Homo sapiens: one gene and its partner. The gene in region 2 interacts genetically with the main gene of each other region. Each region holds a gene or a part of one and is shown on either strand. Other genes may lie near its edges.

Evidence for each region.
Region 1: of RASA1 (region 2) and BTRC, changing one suppresses a phenotype caused by changing the other (phenotypic suppression), as found in Homo sapiens cells (one study listed by BioGRID).

Annotation. Positions count from the first base shown.
Region 1 is NC_000010.11:101,356,864-101,364,427, forward strand, and holds part of BTRC (F-box/WD repeat-containing protein 1A), read left to right. Parts: intron 1-7,564. UniProt on the Homo sapiens protein: Substrate recognition component of a SCF (SKP1-CUL1-F-box protein) E3 ubiquitin-protein ligase complex which mediates the ubiquitination and subsequent proteasomal degradation of target proteins. Recognizes and binds to phosphorylated target proteins.
Region 2 is NC_000005.10:87,375,687-87,383,250, reverse strand, and holds part of RASA1 (ras GTPase-activating protein 1), read right to left. Parts: intron 6,859-7,564; coding exon 6,686-6,858; intron 6,371-6,685; coding exon 6,211-6,370; intron 4,856-6,210; coding exon 4,713-4,855; intron 3,517-4,712; coding exon 3,401-3,516; intron 2,743-3,400; coding exon 2,656-2,742; intron 1-2,655. UniProt on the Homo sapiens protein: Inhibitory regulator of the Ras-cyclic AMP pathway. Stimulates the GTPase of normal but not oncogenic Ras p21; this stimulation may be further increased in the presence of NCK1.

The DNA of each region.
Region 1 (7,564 bases), on a different chromosome or scaffold from region 2:
GCTCATGCCTGTAATCCAGGACTTTGGGAGGCCGAGGCAGGCGGATCACGAGGTCAGGAGATCGAGACCATCCTGGCTAACATGGTGAAACTCCGTCTCTCTAAAAATACAAAAAATTAGGCGGGTGTGGCAGCGTGCGCCTGTAGTCCCAGCTACTCGGGAGGCTGAGGCAGGAGAATGGCGTGAACCCGGGAGGTGGAGCTTGCAGTGAGCCAAGATCGCGCCACTGCACTCCAGCCTGGGCGACAGAGCAAGACTCCGTCTCAAAAAAACAAACAAACAAAAAAGGAAGATATTGGCCAGGCGTGGTGGCTCATGCCTGTAATCCCAGCACTTTGGGAGGCTGAGGCGGGCGGAACACGAGGTCAGGAGATTGAGACCATCCTGGCCAACATGGTGAAACCCTGTCTCTACTAAAAATACAAAAATTAGCCAGGCCTGGTGGCGCGCACCTGTAGTCCCAGCTACTCGGGAGGCTGAGGCAGTAGAATCACTTGAACCCAGGAGGTGGAGGTTGCAGTGAGCTGAGATCGTGCCATTACACTCCAGCCTGGGTGACAGAGCGAGACTCTGTCTCAAAAAAAAAAAAAAAAAAAAAGGAAGCTATTTGAGCTAGCATCAAATAATTAGTGCACAGTACACATGGAAGAACTATCCTTTTAATCAAACGGGCATTTTTATTACTATTTGGCTTTGTTCTGGTCTTAACCTTTCCCTCAATTGTGAATCGCTAATGACAACTTTTATACAGATGTCATGATTTCCATGGTTTAAACAAATGTAAAATTAGTTTAAAATGCCAGAATGAAATGGATACTCTCACAAATTTGCTCATTGCTATACTAAAGTGCCTTGATAAAGAATTTTACAATAAAATCCTGTTAATAAGACTGCTGATTCAGAGATGACCATAATTCACACGTGATCGAGACTTAAAGCTTATTGTTTTACTTGTGAAAAAAGTTTAAGCAGAATGTTTAACTTTTAAAAACAAATAAATGATATTGAAAGCAACGGTTTACATTAACTTACGTGCTAATGTCTCTCATTCAGCTTTAGCAGGTCCTCAAGGACCTTTCTTAATACTTTTTTGGTTAACAAAAGTATAAATGGAAACTTGAAGAGAACCTAAGAAGAGAAATGAAAATGATTGAGGGAATATAGACCCCAAAACACACAAACACACACACACAAGCACGTTTAAGATAGGGGTTGAAAAGACATACTGAGGAGGAATTTGAACTTTATTTTTGTTTTCACCTTTGAGACAGGGTCTCACTATGTTGCCCAGGCTAGAGTGCAGTCATAGCTTGCTGCAGCCTCAAACTCCCAGGCTCACATGATCCTCCTGCCTCGGCGTCTCAAGTGGCTACAGGCACACACCACTATGCTGGCTATTTTTTTTTTCTTTTTTGTTTTTGTAGAGACAAGGGTCGCCCTTTGTTGACAGGGGTGGTTTTTGAACTCCTGGGCTCAAGGGGTCCTCCTGCCTTGGCCTCCCATTGTTGGGATTACAGGCGTGAGCCACCTTGCCAAGCCACGTTTATTTTTAAAAACAGGATAAATATATTCTTGTCCAGCCAATCCCAGAATCAAGTACAGTAGCTTGAAATAGATGAAATAATTTTAGAATGTATTGTTTTATTTATAGAGCTGATAGATAAATGAAACAGTATAAAGGGTAAATATTTGCTGTTTAACAGACAACCTCAAAACTTAGCTTAAAAAAAACAATTATTTTTCCCCTCAAATCTGATGGTTTTTCTGCTTCACTTGGTATTGGCTGAGGTGTGGGAAAGACCTTCACTTCTCCTCTATATGGGCCTTTCTCTACCTGGCTGCTTGGATTTCCTTAAAGTGTGGTGGCAAGGTTCTAAGAAGGGACATTCCAGGAGACAGGAGGTAGAGACTGCCAGTCTTCTAAATCCTAGATTTGGAAGTCCAAGAATGTCACTGTGGGTCAAAGCCAGTCAAGGCCAACTACAGAGGGAGGAGAAATAATGTCTACCTATTGATAGGAAGGGTGGCGTGCATAAACAAGGAAGGGGGAATTGCTGGGGGCCACCTTTTGAGACTTGCTACCGTAGGTGCTATGCTAGTTGGATGTTAAGGCTAAAAATAAAAATGGTATCGGCCAAGTTTGTGGGTCATAATGCTAGGAATGTTTAGGAGGCATCTCTTTTTTTGAGGTTAACTTCGGAAGGCACTAACATGATCTCCTGCGTGACTTCCCTTAATGATGTCACTGTTGACATAATACTGGGTGAATTAATGTGATTAAGTAAACTTGCTTACTTACTTCAGGAAACAGAGGTATCTAAACAGATTACATTTTAAAATAAATTGTCAGATGTTTCACTGTAATGGAATTTTCTTTACATCAGTGAAATTGATTACCAGGTAGTGGGATGAACATCTGAAACTAGTTCTTAGTTTAAGTTGTCTGAGTTTTTGTGTATACTTTACCTATTCCCAGTTTAAATTGGCTTTCAAACAGTTTGTTTTCTGGGTACTCTTATAGGTGTTGGGGTATGAAATTAGTGGTAATTCTTTTTGCCTATTTTCTTTTTTTTTGTCTGAGATACCCTGAGTCTCGCTCTGTTGCCCAGACTGGAGTGCAGTGGCACAATTTCGGTTCACTGCAACCTCCGCCTCCTGGGTTCAAATGATTCTCCTGCCTCAGCCTCCTAAGTAGCTGGAATTACAGGCGTGTACCACCTTGCCTGGCTAATTTTGTTGTATTTTTTTTTTTTTGAGATGGAGTTTTGGTCTTGTTGCCCAGGCTGGAGTGCAATGGTGCAAACTCAGTTCACTGCAACCTCTGCTTCTGAGGTTCAAGTGATTCTCCTTCCTCAGCCTCCCCTGTAGCTGGGATTACAGGCATGCACCACCACACCCAGCTAATTTTGTATTTTTGGTAGAGACAGGGCTTTTCCATGTTGGTCAGGCTGGTCTCGAACTCCCAACCTCAGGTGATCTGCCCGCCTTGGCCTCCCAAAGTGCTGAGATTACAGGCGTGAGCTGCCGTGTCCGGCCTCTTTTTGCTAATTTTCTAAATTTATGTTTATAGTAGATTTTCATAAATTATCAAAAGTGAATTATTAGATGTGGAGTAAAAATTCAACTTTGAGTAGTTTTAGAAATTATTTATTGCTAAATTAGAAAATAAACTTTCAAAAGAGATCTCTTTTTTTTAAAAAAACTTAATTGAGACAGGGTCTCACTCTGTCACCCAGGCTGGAGTACAGTGGTGCAACCTTGGCTCACTGCAGCCCCTACCTCCTGGGTTCAAGCAATTCTTGTGCCTCAGCCTCCCAGGTAGCTGGGAATACAGGCATGTGCCACCACGCCCAGCTAAATTTTGTGTTTTTAGTAGAGACAGGGTTTCACCGTGTTGCCCGGGCTGGTCTCGAACTCCTGACTTCAAGTGATCCGCCCACCTTGGCCTCCCAAAGTGCTGGGATTACAGGCGTGAGTCACTATGCCTGGCCTAGAGATGGGATCTGCTTTTTTTTTTTTTTTTTTTTTGAGATGGAGTCTTGCTCTGTCACCCAGGCTGGAGTGCAATGGCACGATCTCAACTCACTGCAACCTCCGCTTCCCAGGTTCAGGCAATTCTCCTGTCTCAGCCTCCTAAGTAGCTGGGATTACAGGCACCTGCCATCATCCCTGACTAATTTTTGTATTTTTGTAGACGGGGTTTCACCATGTTGGCCAGGCTATTCTTGAACTCCTGACCTCAGGTGATCCGACCGCCTCGGCCTCCCAAAGTGCTGGGATTATAGGCATTAGCTACCGCGTCTGGCCTCTAGAGATGGGATCTTGCTTGCTCTGTTGCCAGGTTGGCCTTGAACTCAGGCTAGGGTTAAGTGATCTTTGTGCCTCGGCCTCTCCAGTAGCTGGGACTACAGGTGCGTGCCACCACTCGCAGCCTAAAATACTTTTTAAATCTCACCTACTTTCTAGCAGTATTTTATTTTATTTGGGCGCAGCTCTGCCATCAGTAGGCTGAGCTCCCTGCAGCCTCAAACTCCTGGGCTGAAGCAATGCCTCTGCCTCAGCCTCCTGAGTAGCTGGGACTACAGGTTTGTGCCACCACACCTGGCTATATTTTTATTTTTTTGTAGAGATGGGGTCTTGCTGTGTTGCCCAGGCTGGTCTGGAACTCCTGGCCTCAAGTTATTCTCCTGCATCAGCCTTCCAAATTGCTGGGATTACAGGCTTGAGCCACCATGCCCAGCTTTAGCAATTTTTTTTTTTTGAGACGGAGTCTCGCTCTATTGCCCAAGCTGGAGTGCAGTGGTGCGATCTCAGCTCACTGCAACCTCAGCTTCCTGGGTTCAAACAGTTCTCCTGCCTCAGCCTCCCAAATAGCTGGGATTACAGGCACGTGTCACCACACCTGGCTAATTTTTTGTATTTTTAGTAGAGATGGGGTTTCACCGTGTTAGCCAGGATGGTCTCGATCTCCTGACCTTGTGATCCAACCGCCTCAGCCTCCCTAAGTGCTGGGATTACAGGCATGTGCCACCGCACCTGGCCAGCAATATTTTAATATAGCACAGAAGTCCTTTCTAAATGTGTATAGTGAGAATCCATTGAGGATGAAATAGAAAATATTTACCAAAGTTTAACAACTTAGTCAATAAAAATAAAACTTTCTCTTTCCGTAATAAGTCAATCTCAGCATTCTAAAATAGGCAATGGAGGGGGGAAGAAATCTCTATGGGAAGGGTCCACTGGATCTTAACAGTTTCAACTAGTGTTCCACAATATTTCTGCTGTACTTGGGGAGAATTTCTGGATAATTAGAATAGTCTGAGGCTTATTCCTTTTAGTTTCCCATAGCCTGATTGAGATAGAGCTATAAGACCAGCTATAACATTGTACAGAAGACTCAGAGATAAACAAGTGAAAAAGATAACTGAGATTAATGTTGAACTAAGAATATGATTGTTCTCTGAGGCACTACCTGCTAGTTCCTGGATTACCTTTATATGTGGCCAAGGTGGGGATTGGGAAGCAAGGGAGCAAAAGCCCTAGAGCTAAGGGAGAGAGAATTTCTGCCTGCCTAAGATGAACCTTCTGAGTTGGATATTTTTTTTTCTTCCCCCTTGAGACGGAGTCTCACTCTGTCGCCAGACTGGAGTGCAGTGGCATGATCTCAGCTCACTGCAACCCCCGACTCCCTGGTTCAAATGATTTTCCTGCCTCAGCCTCCCGAGTAGCTGGGATTACAGGCACGTACCACCACACCCAGCTCATTTTTGTGTTTTTAGTAGGGATGGGGTTTCACCATGTTGGCCAGGACAGTCTCGATCTCCTCCTTGTGATTCGCCCGCCTTGGCCTCCCAAAGTGCTGGGATTACAGCTGTGAGCCACCGTGCCCGGCCTTGAGTTGGAATTTCTTTCTAAAGTCTTGCTCCTTTCTGTAGTTTGGCTTTCCTTTCAGGGTATCTGATTTTGCCTTCCTGCTCCTAGGCTTGTGACCTGACCTGATGCTGTCAATTACAGGAGAATGCAGAGGTGCAAGAAATTTTTTTTTTTTTGAGATGGAGTTTCGCTCTTGTTGCCCAGGTTGGGGTGCAATGGCACAATCTCGGCTCACAGCAACCTCCGCCTCCCGGGTTCAAGCTATTCTCCTGCCTCAGCCTCCCGAGTAGCTGGGATTACAGGCATGCGGCACCACACCCAGCTAATTTTGTATTTTTAGTAGAGACGGAGTTTTTCCATGTTGGTCAGGCTGGTCTTGAACTCCCGACCTTAGGTGATCCGCCCGCCTCTGCCTCCCAAAGTGCTGGGATTACAGGTGTGAGCCACCACGCCCGGCCAGAAGAAATTTTTTGTGTTTTGTTAATACAGTCAGCCACGAATAGCTAACAGCTAACAGCTGGTCCCTCATATTTGTGGGTTCCATATCTGCTAATTCAACCATTGATTGAAAATATTCAGAAAAAGAGACCACAATAAAAAATAACAATATAACAATAAAAGTGGGAATTAAAAACAATACGTATAACAACTACTTACATAACATTTACATTGCATTATTATATGTAATCTAGAGATGATTTGAAATATATGGGAGGATGTGTGTAGGTTATGTGCCGTTTAAGGCACTATAAGAGACTTTTGAGTATCTGTGGATTTTGGTATCCGATGGGAGGATCCTGGAACCAGTTCCCTGCAGCTATGGAGGTTTGACTATAATTATTTAGCATGTACTATTTGCTGTTCTAAATATACTGTTCTAAGCTCTTTATATATATTATTTCATTTAATCCTCCCAGTAATCCTGTGAGATAGATTCAGTATTATTATTATCCCCATTTCTCATTTAAGGAAAATTATTCCAGAGAGGTTAAGTAACTTGCTCAAAGTCATGCTAGCAGGTATCCTGAGATTAAATCCAGGCAGTCTGACTTGAGAGCCTTACTTACGTGCAGTATACTTCCTCTTTGAAGAGCAGGAAAACTGTGGGATATGGTGGCATGTTTCCTTAATATCTGTTAAGGCACACTTTGGTAAATGCTAAAATAGAAGCACAAAGTGCTATAGAATTTAAGGGAGGGGAAGTTCGTTTTTGTTTTTGTTTTTGTTTTTTCTTTTTTTTGAGATGGAGTCTTACTCTGTCACCCAGGCTGGAGTGCAGTAGCGCAATCTCAGCTCACTGCCACCTCCACCTCCCGGGTTCAAGTGATTCTCCTGCCTCAGCCTCCCGAGTAGCTGGGACTACAGGTGTGCACCACCACGCCCGGCTAAGTTTTGTATTTTTTAGTAGTGCTGGGATTACAGGTGTGAGCCACTGTGCCTGGCCGGGAAGTTCGTTTTAACTGAAGAGCTCTTTAGCAGCTTTGTAGAAGAAAGCTTCATATTAGATCTTGATGAATAGATAGATTTTGACAGATATCTCTCTGAGGTAGGCAGTCAAGCGGTGGCCAGAGTGGAAGAATTACTGTCCAGATTTACATATAGGTTTCCTGATTATTTAAATTACCGATGAAGTGCAGTAAGACTCTACTGTTGTCACAGTATCATTTCAGTTAGCTATTGGCGTTTAGAATCACAAAATACCAGCATCTTACAGTGATAGGTATTTATTCTCTTGAAATTGTGGGTTTGCTGGGTAGTGGATGATCTAAACTTGGCTTACTCAAAGTCAAAAGCCCAAAGTCAAGCAGGGCAGGGAGTAACTTGCACAATACTATAGTGACAGTAATCTACTGCAGTGATCTAGTACAGTTGATTTAGAGAAGAATGGTAAGATGCTTATTATGACAACTATTGTGCTTTCTTCTTTCTGCTCTCTATTGTTGACACTCTCCTGATAGCACTTTTTCATTTTGGTTGCTGAATAATACCTGTTGATTGGATACTCCTAGAATCATAATGTAATACAGCAGATTTCTTCTCTTCATGTTATGTAGAAAAAAAGCATAAAGAAATAATCAGAATCTTGACTATTCCACAGTGATGCCCTGAAAAGTTCAGCAATATCATGGTGCTATTCTTCTATCTTTGGGACTGATAAGCTTGATGTCACTGGAATGGCATTTGTAACAGA
Region 2 (7,564 bases):
ACAGAACAGCCTAAGTTGGTTGCATTGATTTTGTTGATGATTCACATAAAAATAAGAATCCATTGCACTAGAGAAAAAGTGACTTATTGATCAATGAAAATGTCTATAATAGAACACTGGAAAGGTTTTCTTTTTTCCTTTTTTCTTTGTTTTCTTTGAGATAGGGTTTTGTTCTGTCACCCAGGCTGGAGTGCAGTGGCCCACAATCACAGCTCACTGCAACCTTGAACCCCTGGGATCAAACAATTCTCTTGCCTCAGGCTTAGAGTAGTTAGGACTACAGGTGCACATCACCATACCTGGCAATTTTTTTTTTTTTTTAATTATTTTTGTAGAAAGCAGAGTCTCGCTACGGTGCCCAGGACAATTTCAAATTCCTGGCCTCAAGCAATCCTCCTGTCTTGGTCTAAACATGTTGAGATTACAGGCTTGAGCCACCATGCCCAGCCTGAAAAACTTTTAAGACAAGACATTAGGAATTCTAAAGTTTTAAAAAGTTGTCAAATTATAAAACAATAGCAAAAGCAAAAATTATACTAACAGCTGTCATATATGATTTTATCTGCTAATTTTACTTTGGGACAATGTCAGTGTTAAAAGCTTGCATAGATACTCCTATTCTGCCTCCTTTAGTCACTGGTAGGGAGGATATGTTGTCATGTAGATAATTTCTAATTTCCTTTTAAGAAGAATCCACACTAATAATTAACCTCTTACTTGCCCCATGTAAAGACAAGCATTATTCCTAAAATAATGAATTATGCAATTCCTTCTACAGATTGATAGACATAATCCATGTAAAGACAAGCATTATTCCCAAAATAATGAGTTACGCAATTCCTTCTATAGATTAATAGATACAATCTCTGTTCTCTGTTAGAGTGGATTACCCAATTTCTTAGCATTTACCTTTGAACATGTACCTGTTTGCTAATTTTTGGACTCTTAGAAAGTAAAGATGTTACTTCTCAAACAGCATTTATAGAAATTCTAATATATTGGCTGGGCATGGTGGCTCATGCCTGTAATCCAACACTTTGGGAGGCCGAGGTGGGTGTACCACCTGAGGCCAGGAGTTCAAGACCAGCCTGGCCAACATGGTCTAACCCCATCTCTACTAAAAATACAAAAATAGCCAGGTATGGTGGTGCATGCCTGTAATCCAGCTACTTGGGTGGATGAAGCACAAGAATCTCACTTGAACCTGGGAGGCGGGGGTTGCAGTAAGCCGAAATCACACCACTGCACTCCAGCATGGGCAACAGAGCAAGACCCTGTCTCAAAAAAATAACAATTAAGTCTTTAATTTTGGACTTCCCAAATTTAAAGAATCTTGTAAACTTTACTTGAAAATATTGTGATAATTATACATAGTAGGTCTATGAGCCTGAAACCTAACCTTGGCAAAAATGCCCTAAAACACCCTCTTGCACGAAACAGTTTACAATTTCCTGCTGTGTTTGCTTAACAGTTATACTTGTTTGAAACTTACAAATTTATAGAACAGTTTTAATTTACATCTCACACGTAACTGTGCTGGAATATTATGCTTGTAATTCTTTTCTATTCCTCCCAATCACCACTAATGCCAAGAAAAACAGAATCTGTAGTTCTTAAATATTATGTCATATCATAACCAAGAGAAATATTACCTGCCCCCCAAAAAAAGAAATAGAAGCCCCTTGACAAAATTTAGGTTGGAGGCAGGATTAACACATTTTCAAAACAAACTGTGTAATAATGGTGTTAATGGTTGCCTAATTATTTTACATATAGCATGACATGACAGTGTATATTCTAAATAACAAATTATATTATTAGAAAACTGCTGTATTCCATGACGCTTTCGCATTAAACTTCCATTTGCCTGGAATTAGTTGGGGTATTAGTTGGAGTATGCTTAACAAAAGCAAAAGCCTACAATAAGACTCAAGGATATCAGATTGGGTCTTAGAAAGTTACCTTTAGTTCTGCCTTAGCCACCAGCTTTCTATAAAACCTTAGTTCAACTTAACCTCTCCAGACAGATCTGCTTCTTCATTGGAAAAATAAGTTAGAATAATGATAATGAAGTAACCTTACGTAAGCTCCCAAATTCCATGATTTGCCAAAGCAGTTCTTCCTATAGAATAATGATAATGAAGTCCCTTTATATAAGCTCCCAAATTCCATGATTTGCCAAAGCAGTTCTTCCTAATTATGGTACAATGAGCAGACTGAAACACAGCTTCAGAACTACATGTTCTGGTTCTGATTAGCTCAGAGTCACAGATTGTAACAAACCAATTAATATCTAAATCGGTCAATTACTGCCCTTCTCTCTCACTGCCAATCAATGTGTGTGTATGTATGAAGAATACTATATGAAGTTAGCTACAGATTTTGTTATATAACTTTTAGCCTCATCTTGTAAGGGTTTAAAAATCCCCAATACTTGACTATAAATGAATGTTCATGTTTTTAGAAAATGCAAACGGCAGCTAAATCTCACAGTAACTTTCAGTTTAGGAGCCATCTGGACTTAGAAAATATGCAACAGGGCTTTGACATAAAAGCCAAAGAAAAAAGCATTGAATTGTATATTGTTATTCCTCAATTTTTCACAATTATCCACCTATTAGTATGTGATTTAACAAATCAATTGATGAGCCTTACCTAACAACTCTTGTTCTCATGGTGGTATTTGTAGGCCACTTATGCTGAACAGATTTCTGTAAACACCCATAAATATATCTCAATGTCCTGCCAAAATAACACAATCATCTCAACACAGAAAGCAAGTGAAAACACTGATCTCCTAGCAGCCAAAAGCTTAATTTACCCAAATATACCACAGTTCAATAAAACTGGCCTTTTACCCAAAAAAGTATTTTGCCACAGGTAATGAGGCATTTAGCAAGGGGTAAGGAAAACTTTATCCACTAAGTTTATCATCAATTTATTCAGTCAACTTCCTGACATTTACTTTCAGATATAGAGAACCAACCAGCTGCAAATTCTGGGGAGCAAGATTTAGACTTAAGTTAACTTCTACCTGAACAAGTGAGTTCACTAATACTGGAGGCCGACAAGCATATTAACAGAGTGATTAGTCTATCAAGTATAGACTAAATGGATAGACAAGATATCTTTTACAATCTCAAATCTGAAACTATAAACCTCTATTCACTCCCCAAGCTACTACAGTACAAACCAGACATATTGGCTTGTACGAAAATAATGGGTGGTTTTATTAAGACAGCTATTTTCTTTAAATACAATTCATCTCATAAAGATTAACCATGACTTTTTCAGAGTATAATAATATTAGGACAACAGAAAAGCTTTCACGTTTTAGAAATAGAAATTTCTGAAGACATAGATACACAATTTCTTGTCAAATGAAAATTTCACCACTTACGGTGGAAGTATTTCTGAAGCCATGAATATTTTCTCCACAAGCTCTGAAAGTATGTTCAATAGGTGTGTTAAATTAGTGTTCACATCTTCATTTTTTTCTAACTTTGATGGACTTAACTAAAAGAAGGAATAAATCAATATAAATGCATGTTGGCAATGACAAATGCAAATGAATAGAGGAAAACAAGTAGTTATAGTTTTCGAGGTTGTCTATTTTTCGGTATCTCTGTGTGTATTGATCTTTTTTCTTTGTATAATGGGAGTTTTTAAGTAGTTTTCTCTATGGAACTCCTCCTGGTAGGTCTGTTACCATTTATTCCCAATTAGCCAACTGAAAAGCAAACAGTGCTTAGTCAATTCTATTTATTTGAGGGGAAAAAAAGCTGATTAAAAGCTTTTCTGAATGAGGCTTATTTAATGGCTAATAAAAATATCAAATGCCTTAGGCAGAATCACAAACCTTTCTCAGAACTTTTCCTGTAACCCTTCTGATCTAGTGTCAGCAGAGTACATTTATCTATGGAAGTCGGAATTCCGTAGCCTATCTCTAAAGTCCAGAGACTCCCTACCTACCTGCTGCACTTCTGTGTCATCCTTATGTTAGGCCAACTATGGCATTACCCCACATTTCCAACATTAAATCACTAATTTCTTCCCTTCAAGTTATTAGTATGAATCGACACCTTCGTGCAGGATTAACATTTGCTAGGTCCCAGTGTCCATTGTCAAAAACAATTCCTTAAACTGATTTTTATATCAGATCTAATATATATTATTTCTTTGTAGTTGCTTTACCATTAAAATGAGAGAATATGTGTGTGAGATTCCACTTACTGTCTTAATAGTGTATTATGAATTTATACTGAAACTTTAATAATCCTAAAAAGATTTTTTTGTTTTAGTTGAGGTTATCTCATAATTCTCCCCTCGCAAAAAAACCTTCAAGAACAAACCAAGATGTAATGAAGTGCTACATAGGTTATATAATGAGTCACTAACAAAACCTTCAATTTATCTTATGCACGCTTTCTGTAAGTAGTATATAGATTATTAGTACAGTAGAGGAAATGACAAAGTATTTTCATGAATTTCTGGTGCAACTTGATGGTTTTTAATCCCAAAATAAAGTACATCTTTTTTAAGAAGTCCATTTTGCAGAACATTTTTATAAATGTATTACAGACAGGTGTAACTGCTATGAGGAATAATTTTAGAAATTTAATATATTTTCCTTAAAATGTAATTGGCTACAAATTATTACCTATTAAAATATGTTCTTTGCAAAAATACTTATTAAAACATTAAATTCTTACCTCACAAGACTGCTTGCTTTCCATTATCTTTAAAATAGAGTCTTTCAAAGCATGATGAACAAACTGTGTAGCAGTGGCTTTCATATACTGCTCCATCAAGGTGCTTGCAAGTGTTGTGGCTCGAAATAGGGTAGTGGCTTCATCTACACAAATATTTACATTAGAAGATTATTTGTAAAGGACTGACCTAATGTGACCAAATTGGAAATTAAGTGAATTCATTTTACCTCAACAGGAATAGCCACTTAAATGTGCTTTTTGCGTGCAGCGTTGAAAGTACTAATTACAATGACATCCTATACTTCTACAGACTTAACTCTGTAAGACTTTCATATGTATTACCTCATTAGATCATGAACAGAAGGGATTAACACTGCCATGTTCATATGGAAAAATGAAGACTCAGAATTGTTATATGACTTAAGATCAATTAGACAGCTAATGATAAAATTAGGACCATAAATCAGCTTTGCTGCCCATTGACCCCATGCTTTGAAATTTTAGGGTTTATTTACAATTAAGGATATAACACAAAATCCCAGTATAGATTAATTTATTAGCTTAAAATATGTCTACTGAGTTTCAGTAAAATTTTAATGAAATACAAATGCTGTCAGAAAAGATAAACTCAAGTGTAAAATAAGGACCACCATTTTATCTATTCCTTGACAAATCTATATTTTGTGATGAGGAGGAAAATAGTTCTAAACTTTACTATTTATTTGGGGAACCTAGAAGCAAGAACTGTTAATGAATCAAAGTGCTTGGTGGTGTGTGTGGGCCAGGGGGAGGGTGGATTATTTTGTAAGCCATTAAAAGCACTGTGTCCAGCAGCTTGGGAACTACCTATCTATAAAAGTTAGAAATAAAATGCAGCTGACACCCAGCTTCTGTGTAATGAAGAAGTAAAAATTAAACAAGACCTGTAACCCCGGCACTTTGGGAGGCTTGAGGCAGGCGGATCACCTGAAGTCAGGAGTTCAAGACCAGCCTGGCCAACATGGTGAAAACCCGTCTCTACTAAAAAAATAAAATAAAAAATTAGCTGGGTGTGGTGGCATATGCCTGTAGTCCCAGCTACTTAGGAGGCTGAGGCAGGAGAATCGCTTGAACCTGAGAGGTAGAGGTTGCAGTGAGCCGAGACTGCGCCACTGCACTGCAGCCTGGGCGACTGAGATGCCATCTCAAAAGAAAATAAAAAACAAGAGAATACAGATAAATATGCCAAACAGTCAAGCCATTGATGTAGACACAGATACCACCTTCTTGTGGCTTCTAGTACTTATCTGCCAAAACCTACATTAGAAATATCAGCTTCCCATAGTAACCAACATAATCAGAACTGACATCCAACTGCAATTTTTAAGGAGGGAAAACAGAATAACTTATTTTGCAATATAATTTAACAATTTAGTATATTCAGAGATAGAGTCCATATATCCTTGATATAAAATCTAAACCCAGTTTCTTGTATCACACTAACATGGCCATACCATACCTTCCATGCTTATTTCTCTGTCATTTAGTGTGCATAACAACAACGATTCAAGCTTTTCGTGAAGAAAAATCCTCAGTAGGATGCTGGCCAGTAGTGTTCGGTCTTGTCCACATACATGTGATAAAGCATAGACTACATGAAGTTCCTTTTGCAGTATAAGCTAAAATGACATTTTAAAAGATTGTTTAAAGTACGTAGCATTATAAGCATGCTCCATGAGACTAACAAGAAATATGTTCTTTCACAAGTTCTTATATTTAAAATGATGTCCCATTGAATAAATTTATTTAAAATAGAATGAATTCGTAGTCTACTTATTTCTACCAAAATTACAGTATAAAACAAGGTTTAAAATCTCTGGCATCATTGTGCTACTAAGCTATGAATTACTATGTTTACCTTAATGGATCTTTTATTAAATGTTAAATGTTTCTGTTAATTCCAACAAAAACAAGACTGATAAATAATTTAATACCTCTTTAAATTCACTGTACTCTTCTTCTGGCATGATTTTTTCCATAGAGTATCGTGCTCGAACACGCAGGGACCCTGGTTCAATACCTTTTAATGGTATATGGGAGCTGAGCAGAAACCATTCATCTGTGGCATGCCCTTTCTGTAATCGGCTCAACTGGCAGCGCATAAATACTTGGGAAGAAAAACAAGCAATTATTGTTTAAAAAGAGAACACGATAATTAGTCATGCAAGTAAATTTTCCTGGTGTTCAGTCTTCCCTATGGTGTTAAATGCTTTTCATTAAAGGAGTTTTCAGTAACATCACAAATTCAATATTTAGTTGTTTATTTACTGAGTGTCTACGGTGCACTAAACTCTGATAGGTAGAGAGTACAGAGATGATTGAGATGTGTTCTTTGAGTTGCATAGAGGTCAGTTTAGTCAAGAAGGCAAGAAATCAATTATGTTTCAGCACTGGTAAGTGCTGTTAACAGTGGTGAATGCTATTCGAGTACAGAGAAATAATATCTAATTCAGCCTGTGGAGGTGAAAACTCCACTTTAAACAGGTAACCCTTGAGCGGACGAGATCTAGAGGTGTAGCTAAGAAGAAAAGTAGTGAAAAAAGAAAAAAGAGCACTTCAAATATAAGGTATGGCCTTCGTTCTGTGTCATTACTATGGGGTTTGGATTTTATCGTAAAAGTAATGGAAAACTAAAATTACTACAAAAAACTACAGAATAAACATTTTATAGAGAAATATTCAGGCTTTGATCTGTTAATACATATCACTTCCTTCCCTAAGCCTGAGTTTTAAGAAGGTATTAACCTAATTCACCCTGATGTGAACTGGTAAATCTCACTGTCAACTGTTTTAGCAGCAGGATGGAAGGAGCT